4 separate regions of the Homo sapiens genome follow, and regions 1, 3 and 4 are each reported to be linked to region 2. Evidence: microRNA targets listed by miRTarBase, many of them from high-throughput screens and not tested one by one. Region 2 holds a microRNA gene; each other region holds the end of a gene's coding sequence.
The links. The annotated mature microRNA hsa-miR-941 reads CACCCGGCUGUGUGCACAUGUGC and lies in region 2 at 2,907-2,929, shown strand. An mRNA with a match to its seed (bases 2 to 7 or 8) in the 3' UTR can be bound and repressed. Matches are read on the target gene's strand: a 7mer-m8 pairs with bases 2 to 8, a 7mer-A1 pairs with bases 2 to 7 and ends in A, and an 8mer does both.

Region 1: miRTarBase lists CKS1B as a target of hsa-miR-941. Seed matches in the 3' UTR shown: 7mer-m8 at 5,627-5,633.
Region 3: miRTarBase lists GTF3C1 as a target of hsa-miR-941. The part of its 3' UTR that is shown has no 7-base or 8-base seed match.
Region 4: the mRNA of PFN1 is a reported target of hsa-miR-941. The part of its 3' UTR that is shown has no 7-base or 8-base seed match.

Annotation. Positions count from the first base shown.
Region 1 is chr1:154,977,657-154,984,759 of GRCh38, reverse strand. It overlaps CKS1B (CDC28 protein kinase regulatory subunit 1B), which reads right to left. Exons shown (of 3, transcript NM_001826.3): 2 at 6,646-6,773; 3 at 5,509-6,035. The coding sequence ends at 5,983. FLAD1 (flavin adenine dinucleotide synthetase 1) reads right to left here and starts at 1,416. Exons shown (of 7, transcript NM_025207.5): 1 at 694-1,416. The coding sequence starts at 1,065. RefSeq lists a silencer at 1,504-1,683 and enhancers at 1,566-2,163, 2,764-3,361.
Region 2 is chr20:63,916,701-63,923,815 of GRCh38, forward strand. It overlaps MIR941-3 (microRNA 941-3), which reads left to right and starts at 2,861; the gene lies at 2,861-2,932. All of the region lies in intron 1 of DNAJC5 (DnaJ heat shock protein family (Hsp40) member C5), which reads left to right. LOC124904951 reads left to right here and starts at 1,059. Exons shown (of 1, transcript XM_047440634.1): 1 at 1,059-3,735. The coding sequence starts at 2,700. The coding sequence ends at 3,638. MIR941-1 (microRNA 941-1) reads left to right here and starts at 2,749; the gene lies at 2,749-2,820. It also overlaps MIR941-2, MIR941-4 and MIR941-5. RefSeq lists an enhancer at 3,054-3,756.
Region 3 is chr16:27,455,027-27,462,120 of GRCh38, forward strand. GTF3C1 (general transcription factor IIIC subunit 1) reads right to left here. Exons shown (of 37, transcript NM_001520.4): 37 at 5,587-6,536. The coding sequence ends at 6,324. Among named protein-coding and RNA genes, the nearest start is that of IL21R-AS1, 5.2 kb to the left of the region's middle. RefSeq lists an enhancer at 2,026-2,075.
Region 4 is chr17:4,939,993-4,947,107 of GRCh38, forward strand. It overlaps PFN1 (profilin 1), which reads right to left. Exons shown (of 3, transcript NM_005022.4): 2 at 6,636-6,828; 3 at 5,660-6,005. The coding sequence ends at 5,908. RNF167 (ring finger protein 167) reads left to right here and starts at 276. Exons shown (of 10, transcript NM_015528.3): 1 at 276-368; 2 at 495-1,001; 3 at 1,085-1,165; 4 at 2,349-2,474; 5 at 2,585-2,672; 6 at 2,859-2,949; 7 at 3,187-3,292; 8 at 3,434-3,527; 9 at 4,566-4,646; 10 at 4,723-5,230. The coding sequence starts at 918. The coding sequence ends at 5,024. It overlaps SLC25A11 (solute carrier family 25 member 11), which reads right to left and starts at 54. Exons shown (of 8, transcript NM_003562.5): 1 at 1-54. RefSeq lists enhancers at 104-173, 1,054-1,183, 4,220-4,763, 4,398-4,447, 5,318-5,367 and 3 more and a silencer at 526-720.

The DNA of each region.
Region 1 (7,103 bases), not on the chromosome of region 2:
GAGTCATTTCCAAAAAGGCTGGGTAAAACTCTTTTTTTTTTTTTTTTTTTTGAGACGGAGTTTCGCTCTTGTTGCCCAGGCTGGAGTGCAATGGCACGATCTCAGCTCACTGCAACCTCCGCCTCCCACGTTCAAGCAATTCTCCTGCCTCAGCCTGCCAAGTAGCTGGGATTACAGGCATGCACCACCACGCCTGGCTAATTTTGTATTTTTAGTAGAGATGGGGTTTCTCCATGTTGAGGCTGGTCTCGAACTCCTGAACTCGTGATCCACCCGCCTCGGCCTCCCAAAGTGCTGGGATTACATGCGTGAGCCACCGCACCCGGCCAAAACTCTTAAATATACAATACACACACCTGTACCTCCTCTACTCGAGGGGCTTCCTGTCATTGTTGTGTAGCTCCTCTGCCCTCTACCATACTGCTTGGTAAATTGCAATGACCTTTTTATTTTTCTTTTTTTCAATCAGCTCTCTCAGGTTGAAAAATTGTAGGGACTTTGCTACAAGTTTTTCAGTAGAGTAATTGAAAGAATGAGGGTTAATTTTCCTCCAATATGCTGGATTCACTCCAGGATCCTACTGCAGCAAAGAGGCTCCCACCCTGTTTCACCTCCTTCCATGGAGGGATGTGCAGCAGGCCCTTAAGGACAGGAGAACGCAGCGCCCTCCCCCCTTTTCTGTCCCAGACACACCTTAAGGATCTCATCTCCAACAATGATGATGCCAGCCGTCACGCTGCGCCCCGGAGAAAGTTCAGAGGCCCTAGATGTCATGGTCCTGCCTTCTCTGCCCCTCTGCAAGGCCCTCCAGTAGCCACCCAGACCCCCAAATAGGGGTCGCAAGCACGGGGGGCCTGCCAGGTCTACAGGGCACTGGGGGCCATAGCCTGGGAACAGGGGGTCCTGGGTCGAGGGAACCTGGAGAAGCCAGAAAAGACAATGGGGGAGAGCAGGCGTGCGCGTGCTTCCTTCGAGGAAGACCCTAGTCTTCTCTAACCAGATCCTTGACAAGCGACTCCTTTGTTCCTGCCTCTGGAATAAACGTGTTCCCAAATCCCAACCCATGTCCTTTTAAATGTCTTGCTTAGCTCTAGTCTTAAAAACTTCTTCTCTCTTGAGAACCTACCACTTTAAGTGTCTTCCGTTTGCTGAGCTGGTCTCCTCAAGTGTCTGCTCTACCTTGGGCATCCGTACCCCTTTAAATGTCTACCTTATCCTGGGCCTTGGCCCTTTTCAATGCATTCGCTCTCCACCCCGGACCAAAATCCCGTCTCTTTCTACTTCAGGCTTCTGCACCCTTTCTAGCCCAGAATCCCTTCTTCCCACCAAGCTTCAGATTACTGAGCCCTCTTAGACTCTCACCTGCCTGTTCTGCCCCTTCACCGGCTCTTTCCCTTGTTCCTTTCCTCATGTCCCGGGGCAGCTTCCGTACTTAAAGTCCCGCCTTGCACCTAGCTGACATTGAATGGTGATTTTGGCTGTCGCTTAGACTCTTCCAGGGTCCCATTGGTGTATTCAACTGTCGCTCTCAGGCTTTAGCCAGTGGATGGGAGCAGGGCCGGATTGTTATAGGCGACAACCACGTGGTCACTTCTCGCCCGGAAATACGGGGGCCGGACCTTAGCCCACGGTCGGGGGCGGGACCTCGGGAGTTTAGGGCGGGAAAGGAGCCGTAGTTAAAGGTGCTGTAAGGCCCTCGGGGAGTTTCTGGTGCTGGATTCAAATAATTGTTATGCATGTGTTGCTTTGTTTTGTTTTGTTTAATGGGTCAGTTAGCCATGGTTTAAGCTGTTTTCATTCACCGTGACTCTAACACTAGGCTAAGGGCTTTTACTGGAGTGAGAAAGCATCTTATTTATAGCAGAAGGAAGTTGGAGGGACACCGAGAAAGATTATTACCACTGTCTGTCGGATATGAAGACCCTGGAGTAGGTGAGCTTTTGATGTGTGGAACCTTAATTTATCTCTAGTATAGTAGACAAAACGAATTACTTAAATCTCTTTGACAAGAAAGAGTCCAAAAACCCTCTCTTCCTCCACCTTGCTCCAGATGGTGCTTAGTTCAAATGACCTTTCCCAGTAATTGGTCTTGTAGGTGCAAATGAGGCAGCGAATAGGGAGTGCCTTACATGTTTACTCTGGATCCTCACATCATCCGAGCTTACCCCCATTTCAGTTGCCTTTGTTCTAAAAGTACATCTTAAACTTTTTTCCAACAATAATCTGGGGATCTTTTCATATGCAGATTGATTCAGTAGGTTTGGGTGGGGCCTGAGATCTGCATTTAGCTAGTTCCCATGTGATGGTGATCCCACTGCTCTATGGACTACATTTTGAATGGTAAGGGCCCGAATTCATTCTTTGTTTTTTTGAGACGGAGTCTCCCTCTGTCACCCAGGCTGGAGTGCAGTGGCGCGATCTCGGCTCACTGCAAGCTCCGCCTCCCGGGTTCACGCCATTCTCCTGCCTCAGCCTCCCGAGTAGCTGGGACTACAGGCGCCCGCCACCATGCCCGGCTTTTTTTTAAAAATTTTTTTATTTTCATTTTTTTTTTAGTAGAGACGGGGTTTCACTGTGTTAGCCAGCATGGTCTCGATCTCCTGACCTCGTGATCCGCCCGCCTCGGCCTCCCAAAGTGCTGTGATTACAGGCGTGAGCCACCGCGCCGGGCCGAATTCATTCTTTGTAGGACTGGTAAACCACACCTTGCCAAATTTTACTCTTCAAAACCCTTGGTCGGGCGCAGCACTTTGGGAGTCTGAGGAGGGAGGATTGCTTGAGTTCTCTCAATTGAAAAAAAGAAAAAAAGGCCGGGCGCGGTGACTCACGCCTGTAATCCCAGCACTTTGGGAGGCCGAGGCGGGCGGATCACCTGAGGTCAGGAGCTGGAGACCAGCCTGATCAACATGGAGAAACCCCGTCTCTACTAAAAACACAAAAAATTAGCCGGGCGTGGTGGCGGGAGCCTGTAGTCCCAGCTACTCAGGAGGCTGAGGCAGGAGAATGGCGTGAACCCGGGAGGCGCAGCTTGCAGTGAGCCGAGATTGTGTCACTGCACTCCAGCCTGGGCGACAGAACGAGGCTCCATCAAAAAGAAAAAAAATACCCTGTAAGATACACATCATGCTCATTTTACAGATGAGGAACAGGCTCAGAAAGGTGAAGGGATGCCACACAACCACAAAACACAGTGAATGGTGGACCCAGGTGATCAGGTGTCTAGACCATTCTTTTAAGTAATAAGCCCCCCCTCCCTTTTTTTTTTTTGAACCAGGGTCTCTCTGTTGCCCAGGCTCGAGTGCAGTGGCGCAAGCACCGTTCACTGCAGCCTCGACCTCCTGGGCTCAAGTGATCCTCCCATCTCAGACTCCAGAGTAACTGGGACCACAGGGGCGCCCCACCATGCCTGGCTAATTTTTGTATTTTTAGTAGAGACGGAGTTTGGTCATGTTGCGCAGGCTGGTCTTGAACTCCTGGGCTCAAGTGATTCCCTGCCTTGGCCTCCCAAAGTATTGGGATTACAGGTGTGAGCCCCCGTACTTGGCCCTCATTTCTTTCAATTATAAAAAGTCAGCTCTTTGAAAAAAAAAAAAAGGGCAAAACAAGAATTCCACTTGCCTAGTAAACCACATGTTCCAATATCTTTATTAGCAATACAGGTGATATTTGATCCCCTCCCAAAACAGAATACCAAGACTGTTCCAGTATTTTCCTAGTGGATTCTCAAGCTTAAGTGTACATCAGAATCAGCTGGAGAGCTTGTTAAAACATTGCTGTGCCCAATCCTGAGTTTAGGATTCAGTAGGTCTAGGTTGTTGCCCAATAATTTGCATTTCTAATGAATTTTCCCGATGTTGATGCCTGCTATTTTAGGAATAAGTGGATGGAAGACAGGAAAAATGGGGGAGATTAATATCCTTACTTAGTACTAGTATTTTTTTTTCTTTTTTTTTTGAGGCGGAGTCTGGCTCTGTCGCCTAGGCTGGAGTGCAGTGGCGCAATCTCGGCTCACTGCAAGCTCCGCCTCCCGAGTTCACGCCATTCTCCTGCCTTAGCCTCCCGAGTAGCTGGGACTACAGGCGCCCACCGCCTTGCCCAGCTAATTTTTTTGTATTTTTAGTAGAGACAGGGTTTCACCATGTTAGCCAGGATGGTCTCGATCTCCTGACCTCATGATCCGCCAGCCTCGGCCTCCCAAAGTGCTGTGATTACAGGCGTGAGCCACGACGCCCGGCCACTTAGTACTACTGTTTTGTTAGACTAGAGGGGAAGTTATTATTCTGTGGAATGTTTTTTTTTTAAATTGAGACACAGCTTCTGTCGCCCAGGCTGAGTGCAGTGGTGTGATCTTGGCTCACTTTCACCTCTGCCTCTCGGGTTCAAGCGATCCTCTCACCTCAGCCTCCTGAGTAGCAGGGATTACAGGCACACACCACGCCCGGCTAATTTATTTTTATTTTTTTGAGACAGAGTTTCACTCTTGTTGCCCAAGCTGAAGTGCAATAGCGTGATCTCAGCTCACTGCAACCTCTGCCTCCCAGGTTCAAGTGATTCTCCTGCCTCAGCCTCCGGAGTAGCTGGGATTACAGGCGTGTGCCACCACGCCCGGCTAATTTTGTTTTAGTAGAGATGGGGTTTCACCATGTTGGCCAGGCTGGTTTCAAACTTCTGACCTCAGGTGATCCACCCACCTCAGCCTCCCAAAGTGCTGGGATTACAGGCATGAGCCACTGCACCCAGCCTAATTTTTGTATTTTTAATAGAGACGGGAGTTTCACCATGTTGGCCAGGCTGGTCTCGAACTCCTGACCTCAAGTGATCTGCCCTCCTTAGCCTCCCAAAATGCTGGGATTACAGGTGTGAGCCACCACGTGTGGCCTGGAATGTTTTCTTAAACAGCTACATTTTGCACCTGTTTTCTCAAAGCTTAGTTCTTTACCTACCTGCATAAGATGCCTGAAATCTTTACCCCCAGTCCACACTCCAGACCAATTAAGAATCCTTAAGAATGACTCAGGCAGGCATCAGTACTTGTAAAGCTCCCCAGGTGATTCCAACGCCCAAGCCAAGTTAAGAACAGCTGAAAACCTTCCCCAACCAAGGGGCACAGTGAATAGGTCATAGATATGCCTATTATTCCTATTAGGAATTGGGACACACAAGCAGCCCCTGACTGACAGCATCCTTTTATCCATGTGTGCCATTCAAATATTGGGACTATGTTAAAGGCAGCACCCCGACTGTAGGAAGCAGTTCATTTGTTTGGATGAGATGAAGTTGTCCCTATATAACCTCTACCTCAGGCTAGTAGTTAGAGTGAAATATATTTCAGTAGATGTTTGACAGCAAGTCTGCTTAAAGTAGATTAAAAACCAGTTATCTCAATGTTAAACCTCATTATCAGCAAAGAGCTGAGCTTCATTATCAAACTGAAGGGCATATAATTAGAACCATGATATTGATGATGCTCACCCTGAGTGAGGGGGAAAAAACCCGTACAATTACAGCACTAGATTATAAAAACTTCCTCTTTAATCAAGGCTTTTAACATGAACAGATTTCTTGAATAAAATGGAAAGTTTCCAGTACACTGAAACATAAATCCGCAAGTCACCACACATACAACACCCGGCAGGAAAAAACAAAAACAGCAAGTTTACATGATCCCTGTAACAGCCATGGTCTCAAACTCAGATGCTTCCTCCATCTGCCAAGTGTGTTCTGGATACAGAGCACATCGTGGCTTCTGGGGTCACACTCAGCTTAGGCTGTGGGTCCACAGAGCACTCATCTGGCTGGGCTATGGTGGTGGTGGCTCTACTCAAGAAGCAAAGCAGTTACCAGCACATTCAAACAGTGTATTGAACATCTTTTAAATATCAAAGTGAGAAACAAGAAGGCAACATAATAATGTTATCAGAAAGATGTTAGGAAGTAAGGACAGCTGTGTAAAGCTTGAGGCTGAAAAGTAGCTTGCCAGCTTCATTTCTTTGGTTTCTTGGGTAGTGGGCGCCGGAACAGCAAGATGTGAGGTTCTGAAAGAGTGAGGGAAATCTAAGAGACAAGCTCACACCATTCTATGTACAACCTATAGTGTATTCCACTACCACCTCCCCAGCTATCACCCACTCAGATCTTTATAACTAAATAAAGACTTAAGCATATGGCCTTAGAAGCAGACCCAGAAGTCTGGACTGTCTGCCAAGTACAGAATTGTTAATATCAGTTCTTTTGCTATGTTTATACAGCCCCAGGGTGTCCCTTATTAGTTTTGCCTGGCAGCTGGGTGTCTGGTGTCTTATCAATAAATATACTTTCCTTTGCTTATTTAGAACACATCCAAGAATGTTTTCGATGGAGAATGAGGCAGGGGCTATGATCAGGCTATATGTGGCCTTAAAAAGAATACCCTCTGATTGAATGAAAGATTACAGGAGGTTTTTCAGTGACAGGTTGTCTCTGAACTTCCCAGATATTTTAGTCTTATTTTTGGTCACTAGTTTTTTTTTAAAAAAATCCCCCACGACTGGAGGGGGAAGGAACCAGTAAACCATTTCCTATCTCCCTATTTGGGTTATACAATCTTATTCTTTCATTCTCTCAGTGTAGCAGTTCTATATGGTTGTTTTTAGCCAGTGCACTGACCTGGTTCATGGATCATATAATGGACCCATCCCTGACTCTGCTGAACGCCAAGATTCCTCCATTCAGATTCAGACATCAGATGGGTTTTAGGGACCAGCTTGGCTATGTCCTTGGGCAGCATGACATGTCTGTAACAGAAACGGGGAAGTGGGGAATTTATGTTAGTACCAGATACAGTCTCTTAGACAAATGCCTGTTTACAAGGCCAAGAAAGGAAAGAAAAACTGGTTTTTGATGTCAGAGTTTATATAATTTTATTGTGGGGTAGCAGCAGCTAGAAATACAGGCTATGTTATATAAATTCCGAGAGTATATTAAAAATACAAATTAGTGAATAATTCCAGTGAATGAGCACTTAAGTTCAAGGCACATTTTCTCCGCCTTCATGGACCTTATAGTCTTCTAGTTGATTATCTACAACATAATGGGAGCCCCACGGAGCACACAGTGTTAATAAT
Region 2 (7,115 bases):
AGGGCGTATTTCAGTCCTTATCTCAACCACATAAGACAGGCACTCCCAGAGCAGCCTTCTGTAGACCTCCCCCCAGGAATGCATTCCTTTCCCAGAGTATTAATTCTTGCTAGGAAAAGAATTTAGTGATATCTTCCCTACTTGCACGTCCGCTTATAGGCTCTCTGCAAGAAGAAAAATATGGCTGTATTTTGCCTGACCACACAGGCAGTCAGACCTTATGGTTGTCTTCCCTTGTTCCCTGAAAATCACGATTATTCTGTTCTTTTTCAAGGTGTACTGATTTCATATTGTTCAAACGCACGTTTTACAGTTTGTACAGTTAACACAATTATAGTGGCCCTGAGGTGATGTACATCCTCAGTTTATGAAGATAACAGGATTAAGAGATTAAAGTAAGACAGGCTTAAGAAATTATCAAAGTATTATTTGGAAACTGGTAAATGTCCATGAAATCTTCACAATTTATGTTCCTTTGCCACAGCTCCAGCCGGTCCATCTGTTCAGGGTCCCTGACTTCCCACAACACCTGGCTTCTATTACTTTTTTAAAATTAGCTTTTTTCTTTTTTTCGAGATGGAGTCTCACTCTGTTGCCCAGGCTGGAATACATGGTGTGATCTTGGCTCACTGCAGCCGCCGCCTCCTGGGTTCAAGCGATTCTCTTGCCTCAGCCTCTCGAGTAACTGGGACTGCAGGTGCAATACAAAAAATGCAGAACTTTTGTATTTTCTGTAGAGATGGGGTTTCGCTGTGTTGTCCAGGCTGGTCTCAAACTCCTGAGCTCAAGTGACATGCCCACCTTGGCCTCTCAAAGTTCTGGGATTATAGGCATGAGCCACTGCATCCAGCCTTATTATTATTATTTTTTTTTGAGATGGAGTCTTGCTCTGTCGCCCAGGCTGGAGTGCAGTGGCGCGATCTCGGCTCACTGCAACCTCTGCCTCCCGGATTCAAGCGATTTTCCTGCCTCAGCCTCCTGAGTAGCTGGGACTACAGGCATGCGCCATCACACCGAGGTAATTTTTGTATTTTTTGGCAGAGACAGGGTTTCACCATGTTGACCAGGCTGGTCTTGAACTCCTGACCTCAAGCCATCTGCCCACCTTGGCCTCCCAAAGTTCTGGGATTATTTTTTAAGCAGTTTTGATAGGTGTGTACCTAGTAGTGCTCTGTGGTTTAATTTGCATTTCCCAGGGAGTGGGGGCACTGCCTGTCTTCTCACGCCTCAGTTGCTTGTTGCTGTGACGGTCGCCCACTCCTCCTGCCAGTGTCTGTGCTGCTCACGGTAGCTGCATCAGCTTCACGCTGTCCGCCCTTCGCCACCCACCGCGCCTGCTGCTCAGGAATGTTCCAAGCAACTTGGTGGTAACAGAAGCTGAGAACAGCCCAGATGTCCTTCGGTGCAAGAGTGGATGGATCAGTTGTGGTCTATTCACAGAATAGAATGTGACCACACTGGAGATGAATGAATTGTAGCTACAATCTGCAGTGTAGACGAATCTTAGGAACGTAGGCGTTTCAGAAGCAGATCAAGCCAGGCACGATGCTGTGTGCCTATAGTCCCAGCTACTCAGAGCCTGAAGGTGGGAGATCACTTCAGCCTGGGAGTTTGAGGCCAGCCTGGGCAACATAGCAAGACCCTGTCTCAAAGGAAAAAAAAAGCAGATTACAGAAAAGTAAATCCAGTGCTAGGCCGTATTTTTAAGCTCAAAAAATTAAAACTAATTAGCGTTTAGGGATAAACATGAGGTAATTTTTTAGAAGCAAGAGAATAGCATTGAATTTAAGGTATATATGGGGAAAATGAAACTTCCAAGTTATTGATAATTTTCCAGTTTTTAAATTAGAGACGGGATCATGGTGTTTATGCGTCATAATTTATATGTTCCATATATTTTTTGTTGTTTTTTTGAGACGGAGTCTCGCTCTGTCACCCATGCTGGAGTGCAGTGGCGCGATCTCGGCTCACGGCAAGCTCTACCTCCCAGGTTTACACCATTCTCCGCCTCAGCCTCCCGAGTAGCTGGGACTACAGGCGCCCACCACCATGCCTGGCTAATGTTTTTGTATTTTTGTAGAGACGGGGTTTCACTGTGTTAGCCAGGATGGTCTCGATCTCCTGACCTTGTGACCCGCCCGCCTTGGCCTCCCAAAGTGCTGGGATTACAGGCGTGAGCCACCACGCCCGGCTGATATGTTCCATATATTTCTTTCTGTATTTCACATAATACATAGTAAAATATTTAAAACAGAACAAAAATAGACTTCCTTTTAAGATGTTTTCATATCTGTTCTTACAAAGTTGGCCACAGTTTTTCCCCAACAGTAGTTTGAGTTCAGCAGCAGCTCTTTTATAAAACGTTTGCTGCACACACTGAGATTGCACCTGGAAGTACAGAAATAAGAACACACGTATTTTATTTTATTTTTTTACCCCTGAAGATCTTTAAGTCTTCTGAGGAGCATGGACCTGCTAGACTGCAAGCTGCTGCATTCTGAGGAGCAGGGACCTGCTAAACTGCAAGCTGCCGCAGGCGGAGATTTTTGCCTGTTTGGTTTATTTTGTTACCACTGAGTCCCCAGCTCTGAGAACAGAGCGAGGCATGTGATCGATGCATCGTAACTGTTGAGCAAATGAATGCTGAGCTGTGATGGCACCGACGTGTCCGGGGAGAGGACGCACCCGGCTGTGTGGACATGTGCCCAGGGCCCAGGACAGCGCCACGGAAGAGGACACACCCGGCTGTGTGGACATGTGCCCAGGGCCCGGGACAGCGCCACGGAAGAGGACGCACCCGGCTGTGTGCACATGTGCCCAGGGCCCGGGACAGCGCCACGGAAGAGGACGCACCCGGCTGTGTGCACATGTGCCCAGGGCCCGGGACAGCGCCACGGAAGAGGACGCACCCGGCTGTGTGCACATGTGCCCAGGGCCCGGGACAGCGCCACGGAAGAGGACGCACCCGGCTGTGTGGACATGTGCCCAGGGCCCGGGACAGCGCCACGGAAGAGGACGCACAGGACAGCGCCACGGAAGAGGACGCACCCGGCTGTGTGCACATGTGCCCAGGGCCCGGGACAGCGCCACGGAAGAGGACGCACCCGGCTGTGTGCACATGTGCCCAGGGCCCGGGACAGCGCCATGGAAGAGGACGCACCCGGCTGTGTGCACATGTGCCCAGGGCCCGGGACAGCGCCACGGAAGAGGACGCACCCGGCTGTGTGCACATGTGCCCAGGGCCCGGGACAGCGCCACGGAAGAGGATGCACCCGGCTGTGTGGACATGTGCCCAGGGCCCGGGACAGCGCCACGGAAGAGGACGCACCCGGCTGTGTGGACATGTGCCCAGGGCCCGGGACAGCGCCACGGAAGAGGACGCACCCGGCTGTGTGGACATGTGCCCAGGGCCCGGGACAGCGCCACGGAAGAGGACGCACAGGACAGCGCCACGGAAGAGGACGCACCCGGCTGTGTGGCAGGGGAGGTTCCCAAGAGCAGGCTCAGGGCTCTGGGGTCTGAGTGAGGGCTCTCCAGCCAGCAGGGAGCAGGGCAGGGTGTTGAAGAGACGGCAGGTGCGTCAGGGGCTGACGTGGGACCCGGCACTCTGTGCTCTGTGTCTGCCCGGGAACAGGTAGTCCTGCGTCGGACCGGGAAGTGTGGTGGGTGTGGTGGGGGAAGGGGCTGGCGTCAGCAGGGCTCTCGTCCGCCAACGTCTGGTGGGGATGCCCGCCATGCGGGGGCCTCAGGCTACAGCCAGGGCTGTGAAGGAGCCGAGGTCATAGAGTGGCTGCCCTGGCGTAGGGAGGGAGGACACGGGTCCCCGCCATTTCAGAAGCTCAGCGTCCCTGCACGTGTGCGGTCTTGTCTGCCTAGGCATGTGTGCGGGCCCTGGGGCTGCTGCCAGCAGAACGGACTGGGATACGCTGGATTTGTAAAACGTGACCCTTTTTGTTTGCTTTTAATTTTTAATTTTTATTTATTTATTTATTTTTGAGACTGAGTCTGACTCTGTCACCCAGGCTGGAGTGCAGTGGTGAGATCTCGGCTCACTGCAACCTCCCCCTCGAGGGTTCAAGCGATTCTCCTGCCTCAGCCTCCTGAGTAGCTGGGATTACAGGTGTGTGCCACCACACCCAGTTAATTTTGTATTTTTAGTAGAGACAGGTTTTCTCCATGTTGGTCAGGCTGGTCTCGAACTCCTGGCCACAAGAAGCAATCCACCTGCCTCAGCCTCCCAAAGCCTTGTTTGCTTTTTTTTATTTTGTTTTGTTTTGAGACGGAGTTTCACTATTGTTACGCAGACTGGAGTGCAACGGCACGGTCTCAGCTCGCTGCAAACTCCACCTCCCGGGTTCAAGTGATTCTTCTACCTCAGCCTCCTGAGTAGGTGGGATTACAGGCATGTGCCATCACGCCCGGCTAATTTTGCATTTTTAGTAGAGATGGGGTTTCTCCATGTTGGTCAGGCTGGCCTCAAACTCCTGACCTCAGGTGATCCGCCCTCCTCAGCCTCCCAAAGTTTTGGGATTACAAGCTTGAGCCACCGTGCCCGGCCACCTTGTTTGCTTTTTAAAGATAATGATGTCACTAAAAGAGTTCTGACTGAGGCCGGGCCTGGTGGCTCACACCTGTAATCCCAGCACTTTGGGAGGCCGAGGCTGGTGGATCACGAGGTGTGGTGATCAAGACCATCCTGGCTAACACGGTGAAACCCCGTCTCTACTAAAACTGCAAAAAATTAGCCGGGCGTGGTGGCGGGTGCCTGTAGTCCCAGCTACTCAGGAGGCTGAGGCAGAAGAATGGCGTGAACCCGGGAGGCGGAGCTTGCAGCAAGCCGAGATAGTGCCACTGCACTCCAGCCTGGGAGACAGAGCGAGACTCCGTCTCAAAAAAAAAAAAAAAGAGTTCTGACTGAAGGTTGGAACTTAGCCCTCCAGAAATGAAGACTGCGAATAACGCTGATGGCAGCTCGTCACTTGCAGCAGGTTGCAGCACGTGCTGCTCGTGTAGCTGCGGCTGCACACCAGGCCTCTCCTTTAACTGTGTTATAACCTTTCTGTTGACATGGGATCCCCTTGAAAGTTTTTTTTTTGGAGACAGGGTCTCACTCTGTCACCCAGGCTGACGTCCAGTGGTGCAATTTCAGTTCACTGCAACCTCCTCCTCCCGGGTTCAAGCCATCCTCCTGCCTCAGCCTCCCAACTAGCTGGGATTACAGATGCACACCGTCACACCCAGCTAATTTTTGTATTTGTAGTAGAGATGAGGTTTCACCACGTTGGCCAGGCTGGTCTCAAACTCTTGATCTCAGGTGATTCAACCACCTCAGCCTCCCAAAGTGCTGGAATTACAGGCGTGAGCCACCACTCCCGGCCCCCTTGAAATTTAAACCAAGTTTAGGAAGAATGAAGTTGTGAGGTGCTACTTCAAACATCAGGTGGCAAACTCCCGGACTCATTACCCCAAGGAAATAGGCAGTCCAGGTTGGTGGCTCACGCCTGTAATCCCAGCACTTCGAGAGGCCGAGGCAGGCGGGTCACCTGAGGTCAGGAGTTCAAGACTATCCTGGCCAACATGGTGAAGCCCATCTGTACTAAAAATACAAAAAAATTAGCTGGGTGTGGTGGCGCGCGCCTGTAATCCCAGCCACTTGGCAGGCTGAGGCAGGAGAATCGCTTGAACCTGGGTGGTGGAGGGTGCATGGAGCCAAGATTGCACCATTGCACTCCATCCAGTTTGGGTGACAGAGTGAGACTCTGTCTCAAAAAAAAAAAAAAAATAGACATCAGAAAGGGTTGGCTCCTGTGATCTCGGCACTTTGGTGACCATGACCCAAGGCAGGAGGATCACTTGAGCCAAGGAATTCAAGATCAGCCTGAGCAACATAGACCCCGTCTCTGCAAAAAATTTCTAAAAACTTAGCTGGCATGGTGGCTCACGCCTGTAGTCCCACCTATTCAGGAGGCTGTGTTGGGAGGATCACTTGAGTCTGAGAGGTTGAGGCTGCCATGATCCCTTATCACACCACTGCATTCCAGCCTGGGTGACAGAGCAAGACCCTGTCTCCAAACAAACAAAAAAGCAAAAAATGGTGTTTTACCTAGGTATTTACCATTTCCAGTGGTCTTCATTCCTTTCTAAAAATCTAGGTTTTAGCCGGACATGGTGGCTCATGCCTGTAATCCCCAGCACTTTGGGAGGCTGAGGCGGGTGGCTCACCTGAGGTCAGGAGTTCCAGACCAGCCTAGCCAACATGGCAAAACCCAATCTCTACTAAAAATACAAAAATTAGCCAGGCGTGGTGGTACGTGCCTGTAGTCCCAGCTATTCAGGAGGCTACGGCAGGAGAATCGCTTGAGCCTGGAAGGTGGAGGTTGCAGTGAGCTGAGATTGCACCACTGCACTCCAGCCTGGGCAACAGAGTGAGACTCTGTCTCAAAAAAGAAAAAAAAAAGAATAAGTCACATTTTGGTGAGGAGCAGTGGCTTGCACCTATAATCCTGGCACTTTGGGAGGCTGAGGCAGGAGGATCACTTGAGACCAGCCTGGGCAACAAAGCCAGACCGTGTCTCTATAGAAAATTTTAAAGTTAGCTGGGCATGGTGGCACATTCCTGTAGTCTTAGCTGCTTGGGATGCTGAGAAGGGAGGCTTTCTTGAGTCCAGGATTTCAAGGCTGCAGTGAGCCAAGATCGCACCACTGCACTCCAGCCTGGGCAACAGAGAAAAACCTTGTTTCTAAAAAAAAAAATTAGGCTGGGTAGGGTGGCTCACACCTGTGATCCCAGCACTTTGGGAGGCTGTAGCAGGCGGATTGCTTGAGTCTGGGAGTTTGAGACCAACAAGATCCTGACTCTATAAAAATTTTAAAAAATAGCTGGGCGTGGTATTGCACACCTGTAGTCCCAGCTACTCAGGAGGCTGAGGTGGGGGGATCAGCTGAGCCCAGGAGGTCAAGGTTGCAGTGAGCTGAAATGTGACCACTGCACTCCAGCCCGGGCAATAAAGTCAGGCGGGGAAAAGAAAGAATGAGTTAACATTTTCTCAGCTTTATGTGTTGAGTGATTTTGGATTCTATCCTGAAATGGTAAGAATGAAAAGAAAATCTGCCAA
Region 3 (7,094 bases), not on the chromosome of region 2:
TTTGTTGTTTGGTTTTTAGACAGAGTCTGACACTGTCACCCAGGCTGGAGTACAATAGCGTGATCTCTGCTCATTGAAACCTCCGCCTCCCAGGTTCAAGCAATTCTCCTGCTTCAGCCTCCTGAGTAGCTGGGATTATAGGCACGTGCCACCACACTTGGCTAATTTTTGTATTTTTAGTAGAGACGGGGTTTCACCATGTTGGCAAGGCTGGTCTCGTACTCCTGACCTGAAGTGATCTGCCCGCCTCAGCCTCCCAAAGTGCTGGGATTGCAGGCGTGAGCCACCACGCCCGGCCAGAGGTGCGTTGTCTTTCTATCATCACCTTGAGCTAGGCTCCAGGTCAGAGGAGAAGAGGGCTGTGGCCCCAGCCCTTCCCAATCTCCTTCCCAGAGAGTTCATAAATGCTTCCCTCCAGATGCCTTGAAGCTTGCACTGCTTTCTGCTGGGATTCAACGAACACATAACCCCAGCTCTCCAACCATCAACAGTTCCTGCGAGATCTCAGCCTGGGATGCTGTCTGGGGGTCCCAGATGCTCTAACAAGGGAAGGAGACAGAGGGAAGTGAAGGCCCAGAAAAAGGCAGTGATTTGCCTGGAGTCCATCATGCTCTGCCCCATTCCTGAGCTCCTTTTGGTCCCCCCGCTGGAGGTGAAAGCCCCTTCCTCCCTCCTATCTGGGGATGTTGTTTGCCTGAGCCCGGCTGCTGGCCCCATGGTATGGCACAACCCTGCACAGCCCACCCAGTCCCAGGGCACCGGTGGAACCCAAGAAGGGGACTTCCGGTGGAAGATGGAGCAGTGAGCACGTGCACTGCCCCTCCCAGGAGCCCATTCCACTGACAGTAAAGGAAGCAGGCGCTTCCTTTAAACTCTCGACAGGAAAGAAAGCAGGCGCTTCCTTTAAACTCTCGACAGGAAAGAACAAGGAGAGGACTTGTCTGCCATCAGGAAACACCCACGCATTCGTGTAAGATGAGAGGATGGAGTCAAGTCTGCTCGGACGTCACCTTCTCCACTCTGGGTTGGGTCCTTTATTCAAAGTGCAACACCCCACTGCCTGGTTTTGTTTTTTCCATCACACTTATTATACCTTCTCATACATTTGTGTTATTTATCCATCATATTTACTGTCTATCGCCACTACAGCAGGGATCTAATTCTCCGCTGGGTCTCAGAGCCTAGAATAGTGCCTGGTATAGAGCAGGTGCTAAAAAATATTGAATAAGTGAATGAATGAATGAATCAATCAATGGTAGAGCAGTGACTGGCAAAGCAGTATGGAGAGAGGAGGCAACCATCTGCCCCAGACCTAGAAAGGGCACAGAATGAGGTGTGGAGATGAAAACAGGCCGCCTCCTGGGGAGTCTGTAATGAGAGCAAGAGCCCTTCCTTCATTGCTCAGACCATGGGGCAATCATAGGTCTTCCCCCTGTGTCTAAGGGTGACAAATGTGAAGGTTCTTTCAAAAATCGATGGCCCCAGGCCAGGCGTGGTGGCTCATGCCTGTAATCCCAGCACTTTGGGAGGCCGAGGTGGGTGGATCACCTGAGGGCAGGAGTTCGAGACCTGCCTGGCCAACGTGGCAAAACCCCGTCTCTACTAAAAATACAAAAATTAGCTAGGTGTGGTGGTGGGCGCCTGTAATCCCAGCTACTCTGGAGGCTGAGGCAGGAGAATCACTTGAATCCAGGAGCCGGAGGTTGCAGTGAGCCGAGATCGCACCACTACACTCCAGCCTGGGCGACAGAGTGAGACTCTGTCTCAAAGAAAAAAAAAAAATTGATGACCCCAGATAAGAAACCCTTTCATCCTACTCTTTAGGGAGTCTCCCAGCACAATGCTGGCTCCCCCCCCACCCCAAAACAAATCCCATCCCTGGAAGGCGGTGTGATGGGGAGGTCCCTGAGGCTGGCAGACTGGGAATACCAGCAGATCCGCTTTCCAGCCTCCAGCCCTGTGGACATGATTTTACCTCCTGCACCTCAGCTTCCTCATCTATGAAATGAGTATACTGATCAGGCAGACGTCTTAGGGCTATTGTGGGGCCAGAAGTTAATGTGTGTAATGTGCCCAGAACAGTGTCTGGCATCTGGCAGATGCTCAGGAAATCTTGTTGCTAGGATATCATCCATTTTATGGATAAGTCATGCCCTGCCCCAGTCAGTTCTTACTGGCCTCACCCTGGAGCCTGTATGGACCAAGAGCACCTGACATTTGGAAACCAAGGCGAAGTAATGGGAAACAGAGACGCTTGGGTGGCTGCTGCCACCTGCTGGTAAGCACTGCAATATGCAGGTGTCGGCTGAAGGCAGTGCCCGCTCGCTCTGCTGTCCAGGGGGAAAGGGCCACAGAAGTGCATCTGCCTGGCGCTTATAAAGGGGACCCTGGACAATCACCACAGCAGCCCTCTGCGGTAGAGAATACGGGCGATGAGGACAGGGTGAACTGGCAGGGGTTTGCTTAATTCAACAAAGGCTGACTTCTACCCTTTGGGTGGATGGACCTGCGTTGGGCATTGGAGGTAAGGAGGGAGACTCCACGCAGGCACATACATGCACACTCACACACACACATGCCCACACACAAATACATACATACACAGCATGTATGTGCACAGATACACACATTCGCGACTTCAAAACGTTTGTGGAGGCCGGGCGCGGTGGCTCACACCACCAACATGGAGAAACCCCGTCTCTACTAAAAATACAAAATTAGCCGGGCGTCGTTGCGCATGCCTGTAATCCCAGCTACTCGGAATCTGAGGCAGGAGAATCGCTGGAACTCGGGAGACGGAGGTTGCAGTGAGTCCAGATCACGCAATTGCACTCCAGCCTGGGCAACAAGAGCGAAACCCTGTCTCAAAAAAAAAAAAAAGAAAAGAAAAAGAAAAAGAAAAAAAAAAAGTTCATGGAAAATGAATTCAAAGATTAAAAATAAGAAACAAACTGTCTTTCTCAACATAAGTTCCATCAAGGTCAAGACACTTTGGTGGGCGATGAGACCAGCCATTCAGCCCCTCCCTGAAAAACTGAGGGTCCTGGGAATTTTACCATGGCAATGCCATCTTTTTACATTATTAACTGAAGAAAAGTGCCCTTTAAAGTTTTTTTTTTCTTTTTTAGGAAACAAAAAGAAGTCAGAAGGAGCCATATCAGGACTATAAGGTGAGTGCCTAATAATTTGTCATGGAAACGCTTGCAAAATTGCCCTTGTTTGATGAGGAGTGAGCAGGGGCATTGCTGTAGTGGAGAAGGACTCTCTGGTGAAGCTTTCCTGGGTGGTTTTCCACTAAAGCTTTGGCTACTTCCTCAAAACACTCCCATAATAGGCATGCTGATGCAGATGTGCCAGGGGGTCGGTGAGTGAGCCGTGCTGAGGGCGTGTTTTATGTTACAGGCCCGGGCTTCCCAGGGCGTGCACAGACAGATATGGATGGAAATGGGAAGAGGGAAAGTGGGAGGGGCCCTGAAGGAGAGGGGCCCACAGGCTTTAGCCAGATTTGAAATGTTGTATTTAACAGACAATGCATTCATGTATTTGCTTATCTAAGAAAAAGAAAAAAGAATTAAGAGTGAGGAGGGCAAGACTGGGGGGTATATGGAAGCTGGGGACACAAAGCCAAGGTGTCCGGGCCTCGTGCAGGTGCCCATCTGGGCTGTGCATTCCCTGGCCTCTCTGCAGGAGACCAGGAGCCACCACCTAGCACTGTTCTGGCAGCTGCAAAAGGGCCAGAGACCCATTTTTGCCCCTTCGTAGGTTTTGTTTGGTAGTTAGTGCTTAATGTTTCTTTCAAATTTGCATTCCTTCACAGCCTGGGCATACACATTTTAGTTTTCCACAGTTGCTATCACTCCCTAGTATTTAACCCAAGGCCCCTTTCCTCTCATTTGTTACCTGCCTGGCCCCTGAAGGCATCTCAGCTCACAACTACTGGTCAATGCTGTGGCTTCTGGAGATTTCTGTGCAGAGCTTGGAGGGGCAGAGAGCTGTCTTGGAAGGATGGATGGATGGATGGGTAGATGGATGGATGGACAGATGAATGAATGGATGGGTAGGTGGATGAATGGACAGATGGACAAATGAATGGGTGGATGGGTAGGTGGGTGGATGGATGGATGGATGGACAGATGAGTGGATGGATGTGTAGATGAATGCACAGATGAATGGATGGTGGGTGGATGGATGGGCGAATGGATGGATGGATGGATGGATGGATGGATGGGTAGGTGGATAGTTGGGTGGATGGATGTGCAGATGGATGGATGGACAGATGGGTGGGCAGATGAGGGGCTTCATGATGGGTAGGAGGGAGGGGAAGAAGCAACAGATTATCCTTGGGCAGAATGGGGATGTGGACTGGTGTTCACAGAAGCCCCATTTCACCATCTGAGAGCTGTCCCCACCATCCCTATGTCCCATCTCCCAACACATGCCCACACTCTCCATCATCTGGGAGGCACAGGCAAAGAAGGAAACTTGCTGAACCCGACTATGCACTTGCATCCGGTGCTCTTCAGCTCATCTGGCCCTCCCTTGAGGGAGATACTCTTCCCCCAGTTTTCAGACGACAAAACGAAGGCTCTGAAATGTGAATGCAGGGTCAGTTTTTTAGGAAACACTTACTGGATTCCCAAACCTTTCTTCCACCATGCCACACTTTCCCAAATAATTAGTATTTGTACAGTATTTTATTTATGAAGCAGACCACATCCACTATTCTACTTGATTGCCTCAAAAAATCCCATAGAACACTATTGTTTCTACACTTGAATGAAACTTTAAAGGGAAAAAAAATAGACACTAAGACCTGACCAGGCTAGGCAGTGCGGGGACTCACTCTCAGGACTCTGACTCCCAAGTCCCTGCCTTTGTCCCTCCTCATCCAGAAGTGTGGCCCAGAGTGACCAGGGCCCTGGTCCCTCGTAGAGGGAGGATGGAGACATAGGTTGGAAGGTGGGTCAGGTCAGGGGTACATGTTCCCCAGAGGGGACACTTTTCTAGGTGAGAGAAGCTGCAGGTGGGTGTGAGACACAGCTGGCCAGGTCGGGGCACATCCCACCTAGAGGGAGTGGCCTCTGCTTAGCACTTCTGACTGCCACAGGCAGGAAGCTAAGCCCATTGTTACTGGAACTTTCCATTTTAAGAGAAGACAGAAATCTGAATTTTTTTTAAAAAAATGTGAACTCTACATTTTAAAAATGTTGGCAACTAACTTAAAAAAATGTAACAATGTGAGCTCAAGAGAACTTCAAGGGGCCAGACCCATCCCGCAGGCCCTGCCAACACCAGCTGTGCTGAGCTGAGCTGATCGTGGGCCTGGCACTGGGCTGGGAGCTGCTCTGTGGGGGACAGGCCTGGGACCAGCTGAGAAGGTGGTGAGGGAGCTGCCTGTGCCCCTCTCCATCCTGGAGGCCATCTCTCACCTGCTGGCTGAGGCTGGGCGGGGCTGCCGAGCTTAGGATCAGGGCCTTCCCTCTTCCTTTGGTTTCAATGGGAACAGCCATTCCAGGTTGTTCTGCAGCCAAAGCAGGGAGTCCCCTAGGGGAATCACTGATTCTTTAGGAAACACACAAAACAGAATGCATTTTACTTCCCTTTAATCAAAAAATAAATAAGTACACTCCACAGGGACTTTTTTTTTTTAATGAGGAAAAAAGGTGAAAGAACAAAATAAAACAAACAAAACCAAAACCTACAGGGACTCTTCATTTCTGGCCTGCAAGGAATCACCAGCCAGGCTGAGGGACACGGACAGCCAGCCCAGCTGGGGCCTGCCAGGTGACTCACAAGGCTGAAAAGGGAGCCGCTCCGCTCTGGGTGGTTCAGTCCCAGCCAGGGGTTGGGATGTCCTGCCTGCGGAGGGGCCACAGCCCCCATGGGGGGCCCCTCGCAGCGGGGCACACCGATCCCTATTCTGCAAGGTGTATCCCACAAGGCCCTTCCTCTTGGTGGCACCTGGGCACTCAAGGAGCCAGGAGATCCTGCCGAGATGGCTAGAGTCTGGAATGTGAGGTGTGCACAGGCGGGGCAAACTCTGGAGACCCAGAGACAAGAAGCACCAACTCCCAGTGTGATGAGGCCAGTTCCCAAGGGGAAGGCCCAGAAGAGCCTGGGGGATGGGCAGGTCGGGGAGCCCCTCTTTCCAGAGTTCCAGTACAGTGGGAAACGTGTCAGTCTGTGACTCTGGCCAAAGCACCCGTCCCCTGCTGCAGGAGGCTCGGCAGACCCAAGGCCAGGGCACAGTGGGGTCTGCCGAGCACCAGGCAGGAGTGGTGTGGCAGGCGGTGGCTGGGAGGGAGGGGACGCCCACAGGGGTCCTAGAGGTGGATCCACTTGTTCCAGTTGACCTCGTGGGGGAACACACGGCCCAGCCGGAGGGTACAGTCCAAGGTGGGCTCATAGAAAGCCATGGGGCTCTCGTCCAGGCTGGAGGGCACTTCCACCTCTTCCACCACGGGTGTAGAGAAGAGCGAGACAGGCCTTGGCTTTCTCAGCCAGCGCTTCCGGATGCAGCCGAGGGACTCCAGGCCCTGGAGACACCAGACACACAGGTTACAGCGGCACTGCCCTCGCCTGCTTGTTGATTTATTCTTCAAGCATTTATGGAATGCCCCCTCTGTACCAGGGAGCCACTTCCCAGAGCAGGGGGCACCTGAACTGGGCATGAGGCAGATGGGGATGTACCAGGAGGGTTCAGGCAAAGGCCCTGGTGGGAGAGGCAGCTGCCTGAGCAGCACGTGTACAGCGCTGGCTGGAGCCACCACGCTGAATCTCATTTGTGGAGGAGAGGCCTGCAGCGCGGGATAAATCCCAGCTTCCTGTGAGCCAAGACTGGCTTCCAGGTGGGGTTTTGTTTGGCTCATGGGGAATTTGACACTCAACTTCAAGCTCCTAGCTGCCAGAGGAGCTGGAGGCCCCAGGCACACATGGGAGTCAGCCAAGCAGGAAGCAGCTGCACCAGGGGGCAGCTGCTTGACCCGTGGGGCCCGGCGGACTCATGAGTTAGTGACCCCTGGCACAGAGAAAGCATCAGAGACAAGCACCCCGGGCACCCCATCTTCCAGCCTGGTCAGCAGCATGGAGCTGGT
Region 4 (7,115 bases), not on the chromosome of region 2:
GCGAGGGCGCGCGCACGCCCCTCCAGCTCTCAGGTCCGACACCCGCTGGAAGCCGGCGCGGGCGCAGGCGCGCAGCGCAAAGGCGGCCGGGAGTAAGGCGGAGCTGAAGGAGGAGCTTGATGGAAGCGTGCGAGAAGGGGCGTAACTGATTTGGAAACCAGAGGAAAGGCGCTGTTTTCACCGAATTAGAATCGCGGGAAAATAGAGAAGAGTTTGTTTGAAGGTCTCGCGAGATCGAGTGAGTACGGCTCGCCAAGTTGGAGCGCTCTCGCGATAGACACAGCAACTATTCAGCTGCGAGGGGACGGGAGAGGTGGTGAGCACTCTCGCGAGATTTGAAGGAGCGGCGGAGGCCAGAGGGAGGAGAGGTTTGTAAACTAGGAGGCTCCGGGTTTCCGGGCACTTTTATTAGGTCGTCTTCTGGGCCACCAGTGCCCCTTCCATCTCCACAGGCAGTCCCTCCATCGCTAACCTTTTTTTAACCGGCCTTTTAGGACCGGAAGTCCTTCATCTCAAGCATCCAATGCTGAAAGCGGCCTGATTTTCTCTACCGGAAGCCCTTTTCCAGAGGCTGGGAACACGGCCCACCTAGCAGGAAGTCCCACCTCCTTGAGCTCCGCCACCCTTCCCGAAGTTTTTCTGTCACCTGTGTTAGGCTCCGTCCCCTTTCCGCGTTTTATCCCCGTACCAGAAAAGGATACATTTAGTGCCTCCCACCCAGCTCCACTAAACGGGTTGGATATCTCATTCTTTGAGTTGGTGTTCCTTCCCCGGCGCCCCCATGTAGCTGGGAAGTGGGACCTGGGGGTGGTTGGACCCCTGGGATCCTAAAGGAGGGGCAGGGAGGGCGCAGAACTCCGCTTCTGCTCCTTGCTACCAGGACGCGCGGCCTCCTCAGCCTCTTTCCTCCCGCTGCCATGCACCCTGCAGCCTTCCCGCTTCCTGTGGTTGTGGCCGCTGTGCTGTGGGGAGCGGCCCCGACCCGGGGGCTCATTCGAGCGGTGAGTCTGAGGGACGGATGGGGAAAGGGCGCTGAAAGGAAGGGTTGCAGGCTGAAGGGGAACATCGCCTTTTTTGTCCGCAGACCTCGGACCACAATGCCAGCATGGACTTTGCAGACCTTCCAGCTCTGTTTGGGGCTACCTTGAGCCAGGAGGGCCTCCAGGTGATTTTCTTTCTTTTCTTTTCCTCCTTCCCTCCCTTCCTTCCTTTTCTGTCTTTTTTCTTTTTTTAGTATTTCGCAAGATCCTCCATCCTAGGCTGGGGTTGGGGAGGTTTGTCCTGGGTGAAACTGGAGGTAGGAAAATGAAGTTAGGAACTGAGCACGTCTAGTGTAGAACCCAGAATCTAGAGGGAGAAGACAGAGTGTCCACCCCTGGAACTCCGAGGTTATCAGGGAGACTGAAAGTGGACGAAGACAGAAGGCAGGATCAACGGTCCTTATCAGGAAGGTCTCAGGTGCTAGTTATTGCTTATATGACTTTGGGCAAGTTAATCTCTCTGAGCCTTAGTTTGTTTTACTGTAAAATGGGATATTAGAAGTTTTCCTAGGGTTATTGTGAAGATCAAAGTAGATACGCAATTTTGGTAGTATTTCATCCCAAAGACTGCCACATAGCAAGAACTCAGTTGGGCCTTAGTAGCAGTCGAGTTGTTTGTGAGATGGGTAATTAGAAAATTGAAGAGGCCGGGCGCGGTGGCTCACATCTGTAATCCCAGTTCAAGACCAGCCTGGCCAACATGGAGAAACCCTATCTCTACTAAAATGGCAAAAATTAGCTGGGCGTGATGGTGCACGCATGTAGTCCCAACTACTTGGGAGGCTGAGGCAGGAGAATCACTTGAAACCGGAAGGTGGAGGTTGCAGTGAGCCGAGATCGCGCCACTGCACTCCAGCCTGGGTGACAAAACGAGACTCCATCTCAAAAAAAAGAAAAACAAAAAGAAAACTGAAGGGAGGGGAGTGTGTCTGTATGAGTATGTGCTGGAGAGGGGACTGTGAAACAGAACTTGAGAGAAAGTGACATGGGTGGTTTGAGAATTGAATTACAATTGGAATATTAGAAGGCAAAAATAATTGCATTAGCTTGCAGTATAGGGTACAGATTAGCCCATCTGGGACAGCGAGAGGGATGATGGGAGAGTTTGGTGAAGGGATGTTTTATGTCATTGCCTTTTCAAGAGGCTAAGAGAAGGTTGTGATGGTGGGATGCTCACTCAGACCCCAGGAAGGAGGAGGAAGTGAGGATAGAGGATGTGCAGCATGTGGGCTGGTGTGTTTGGTGGCCCCTGTAGAGAGCAGAATCTAGAAAGGAGAAATCTCACTGTTGTTTGCTTCCATCCTTCAGGGGTTCCTTGTGGAGGCTCACCCAGACAATGCCTGCAGCCCCATTGCCCCACCACCCCCAGCCCCGGTCAATGGGTCAGTCTTTATTGCGCTGCTTCGAAGATTCGACTGCAACTTTGACCTCAAGGTTGCTGAATGAGGAAGGGGAGCTGGGCAGCTGAGGGTAAAAAAAAGGCACCAGGAATGAAGACAGGTAAGGCCCATGATGGCTCCTTGTCCTCTGCCTTGTCTCCCTAGGTCCTAAATGCCCAGAAGGCTGGATATGGTGCCGCTGTAGTACACAATGTGAATTCCAATGAACTTCTGAACATGGTGTGGAATAGTGGTAAGGCTGGGGGAATCTATACAGCTGGGCTTTCAGTAGGACCCAGAGATGGTGGGAAGGCTGAAGGCCTCAGGAAAAGAAGCCAATCCTTTAGGTGGGGTGGGGCCAAAGTGCAAGATGCCAGGGTTCCCAGAGGATTTGAGTAGAAGGTTGTGAGTCCCCAGAGTAACACCTTGATCCCTGCAGAGGAAATCCAGCAGCAGATCTGGATCCCGTCTGTATTTATTGGGGAGAGAAGCTCCGAGTACCTGCGTGCCCTCTTTGTCTACGAGAAGGGGTAGGACATGTGCCTCCTTCCCATTCTTCCTTCAGCAAGCAGTTCCATGCCAACCTGGAGCCCAGGCCTCCTCATTACCCGAACCATTCAGCCTCCTGTCCTTCCTTCCCTGCCTCTTTGACTTTCTTCCCATTCCTGTCCCCACCTATGGGCTTTGTCCAGAGCCAGTTACTTTGTCCCTCTTTTTTTCTCCCTTTGCCTTTCTCGCCCTGCTGAGACTGGTCATCCTTTTCCCAGGGCTCGGGTGCTTCTGGTTCCAGACAATACCTTCCCCTTGGGCTATTACCTCATCCCTTTCACAGGGATTGTGGGACTGCTGGTTTTGGCCATGGGAGCAGTAATGGTGAGTAGCTGAGGGAACATGATGGGAAGCACTGAGGCCTGTGAGGCCAGACTGGATCTGGAGTTGGGAGATGGGAGTGGCTTGTCCTAGATTGTCTAGTTTTGTTCCTAAGCCTTGTCCATCCACCCCCGCTTCCCCCAGATAGCTCGTTGTATCCAGCACCGGAAACGGCTCCAGCGGAATCGACTTACCAAAGAGCAACTGAAACAGATTCCTACACATGACTATCAGAAGGGTGAGGGGGTTAGGGGAGAAGAGGGCTTTTCCCACAGTTTACCTGGTTCTGAAGGACTTTGAGCCCAGAAGATAGGGTATACAAAGATGGCAGTGGCCGGGCACAGTGGCTCACGTAATCCCAAGTGCCTCTAATCCCAGTACTTTGGGAGGCCAAGGTGGGCAGGTCACTTGAGCCCAGGAGTTTGAGACCAGCCTGGGTGACATGATAAAACAGAAAAGTCCCAGCACTTTAGGAGGCTGAGGCAAGTGGATCCCTTGACCCCGGGAGTTCAGGCCAGCCTGGGCAATGTGGTGAGACCCCATCTCTATAAAAAAATAAAATTAGCTGGGCATGGTGGTGTGCACTTGTAGTCCCAGCTAATTGGGAGACTGAGACAGGAGAATCACTTGAACCAGGAAGGCGGAGGTTGTCGGGGGCTGAGATTGCACCACTGTGCTCCAGCCTGGGCGACAGAGGGAGTCCCTTTCTCAAAAAAATAATAATAAAAATAAAGATGGCAGTAGGAAGGTTTCAGCTTGAGATGCTGTCTTTTCTTCTGTTTTTATGCATAAATACAACGAAGACGGGAGAGGAGATGGAAAGCAAAGATGATTAAGTGAAATAATTGTGGGAAACAATAGAGGGATAGACTTTGCTTATAGGGGATGTGGACAGAGCAGAAAAATGGGAGGAATGGGGAGGATTCAGTTAGAGAAGGAAGAAACCGGTACCAAGGGGCTGGGGCTTTAGGCCCTGGGGCCTCCAGTGCCCGTATAAGGCTGTGGCAGAAGCCCTGCCCATTTCCGTTCCTTCCACTCCCTATCTCCACCCTCACACCTCCCCAAAAACCCACTTCCCTTCTTACCTCTGCTTCTCTTTGCTTGTCCCTTCTAGCCCTAAATTCTTCCATGTTCTGCCCTGACCTTATCCTGCCTACCTGTCTTATCTCTTCCACTGGCTTTGTAGGTGAGGGGAAATTTTTGCAAGGCTTTAAAAGCCTTAGCCCTGGGTCATTGTGGCTCAGTGAAGGACTAGATTATTTTCTTTCTGTCCCAGGAGACCAGTATGATGTCTGTGCCATTTGCCTGGATGAATATGAGGATGGGGACAAGCTGCGGGTACTCCCCTGTGCTCATGGTGAGGCCCTCACTGCCTGCCCATGCCCCTCTGCCACCAGCAGCCACCAGGTGCTTCACCTTGTTCCTCTCTGCAGCCTACCACAGCCGCTGCGTGGACCCCTGGCTCACTCAGACCCGGAAGACCTGCCCCATTTGCAAGCAGCCTGTTCATCGGGGTCCTGGGGACGAAGACCAAGAGGAAGAAACTCAAGGGCAAGAGGAGGGTGATGAAGGGGAGCCAAGGGACCACCCTGCCTCAGAAAGGACCCCACTTTTGGGTTCTAGCCCCACTCTTCCCACCTCCTTTGGTTCCTTAGCCCCAGCTCCCCTTGTTTTTCCTGGGCCTTCAACAGATCCCCCACTGTCCCCTCCCTCTTCCCCTGTTATCCTGGTCTAATAACCCCCCACACATACACCTCTGGTGACCTATTTGCACAGACCGTCGTCTTCCCTCCAGTCTTCTGAGGGATAGGGGACATTCCATCCCAAGCTTCTCCCTTACCCACACCTATCCTTTTGAGGGGCTTTGGGGTGGAGCTGGGGCAAGCAGAGGGACTGGGTCTTCACTTCTTGGGCTAATAAAATTGTTTCTTTGTGGACTAAGGAAGGGTAAGATCATTCTCACACAGGTGAACTTAACCCTTTGGTGGAATCACCCCTTTAGCCATAAGGAGCAAGGGAATGCTGAGAGACACTAACCTATAGTCATGGGGACAGCCCCAGCCGGCATTTGCTATGACTCAGAAGGGGGAGCCCCACCCACAAGGATGACTCAACTAGCCCTGCCTTGCCTGCAGGCCTGCACCCATTCTCTGGTCCAGATGGCTCTATTCCATCATCCACCAATTTGACCAGCACACTGAGGACTTAGGCCTGGAAATGCCACTGTGGAGGGGCAGGGCCACCTGGCCAGAAGCTCAAATTCCTGCACCTTGTAGTACCTCAACCTCCCTGCTCCCAAGCCACGATAAAGGAGGCAAGTCACAGTGCCTATCCCCCATTCTGACACCCAAGCTCAAATCACACAGCACCTTGTTAGTAGAATCTTTTTTATTCAGAAAAAAAAAACCCCAAAAAACAAAAGTTTTCCAACCACACACGGGAGGGATATGGGTAGGGGGAGGTGTCTGTCCATCCAGCCCTGGCCCCCAGCCCATGTGGTTTTGGCAGCAATAAGGGGTATGGGGTAATGGCCCAAAAAATAAAATGGTTTGTGTGTGTATGGGGAGGAAAGGGGTGCAAAGCTGTGGGGAGCGGTGAAGGGGAAGGGACAGACGAGGTCAGTACTGGGAACGCCGAAGGTGGGAGGCCATTTCATAACATTTCTTGTTGATCAAACCACCGTGGACACCTTCTTTGCCCATCAGCAGGACTAGCGCTGGAGGAGGAGGAAAGAGAAAGGAGGCTAGGATCCAGGTGTCACAATTCCACCCCCTGCCAGCTGTTCAGCAGCTGTCCAGCCCTGGGGGCTGTAACCCAACCTCATCTCTCCCAACCCGCCCCCCCACCACACACAGGCAGGCTGTCAGTCACCCTGAAACAATAAGGCTTTTCAAAAGAGGAAAATCAAGCTTAAACGCTGGAGAGGAACAGACTAAAAACTTAGGGGTCAAAGGCTCATAGACTGTTGATTCATGTGTTCAGGCTAGAAAGGGCTGTGGATGTGCATGCCACCTCCAGGTTCTAACAAAAGAACTCAAACGATGAACTCGATGATTCAAGACCCCAACAATCTACCTATACTCCTAGAAAACAGTTTCTAATCCGAGCTCAAGGCAGTAAGTAATTTAAGAGGTAATGCAGTTCAGCAACTTCGAATTACAAGATGAGGAACTGAGACAGAATGGAGGGACTATCCCGTGTTCCAGCATCCAGCAGACAAGGAACACAATACTGGTCTGACTCCCTTCATGTTGGGGAATCACACAAAAAAGCACCCTCAAGATTACCAGAAGGCGGTACATTAGAGATCTTGGAGCTAAAGGAAGGGTAAGACTCAGGAACTCACTCTTGTCAGTCTTGGTGACAGTGACATTGAAGGTGGGGGCCCCACCGGTGCTCTTGGTACGAAGATCCATGCTAAATTCCCCATCCTGCAGCAGTGAGTCCCGGATCACCGAACATTTCTGGCCCCCAAGTGTCAGCCCATTCACGTAAAAACTTGACCGGTCTTTGCCAACCAGGACACCCACCTCAGCTGGCTGGAAGAGGAACCAAGCGCCCATCAAGTTAGTCAGTGCACCAAGATTCCCACCGTGTTCTCCAAAGACCCACCTGTCTTCCACTTCTGAGAACCACCCCGCCGTGGGGGCTAAGTATAAATTATATACTCAGTACACATCAATGAACTGTGAGAAACTCTGAGGACTGTGGGACGTTAGTGCAGAAAAAGATCATGATTCTGAAACTTAGAATATGGAACCAGGGAGGAAGGGATGACATACTCCTCTAGAGATTTAGATGTCAGTGTTAATGGGGAAAGTAAACC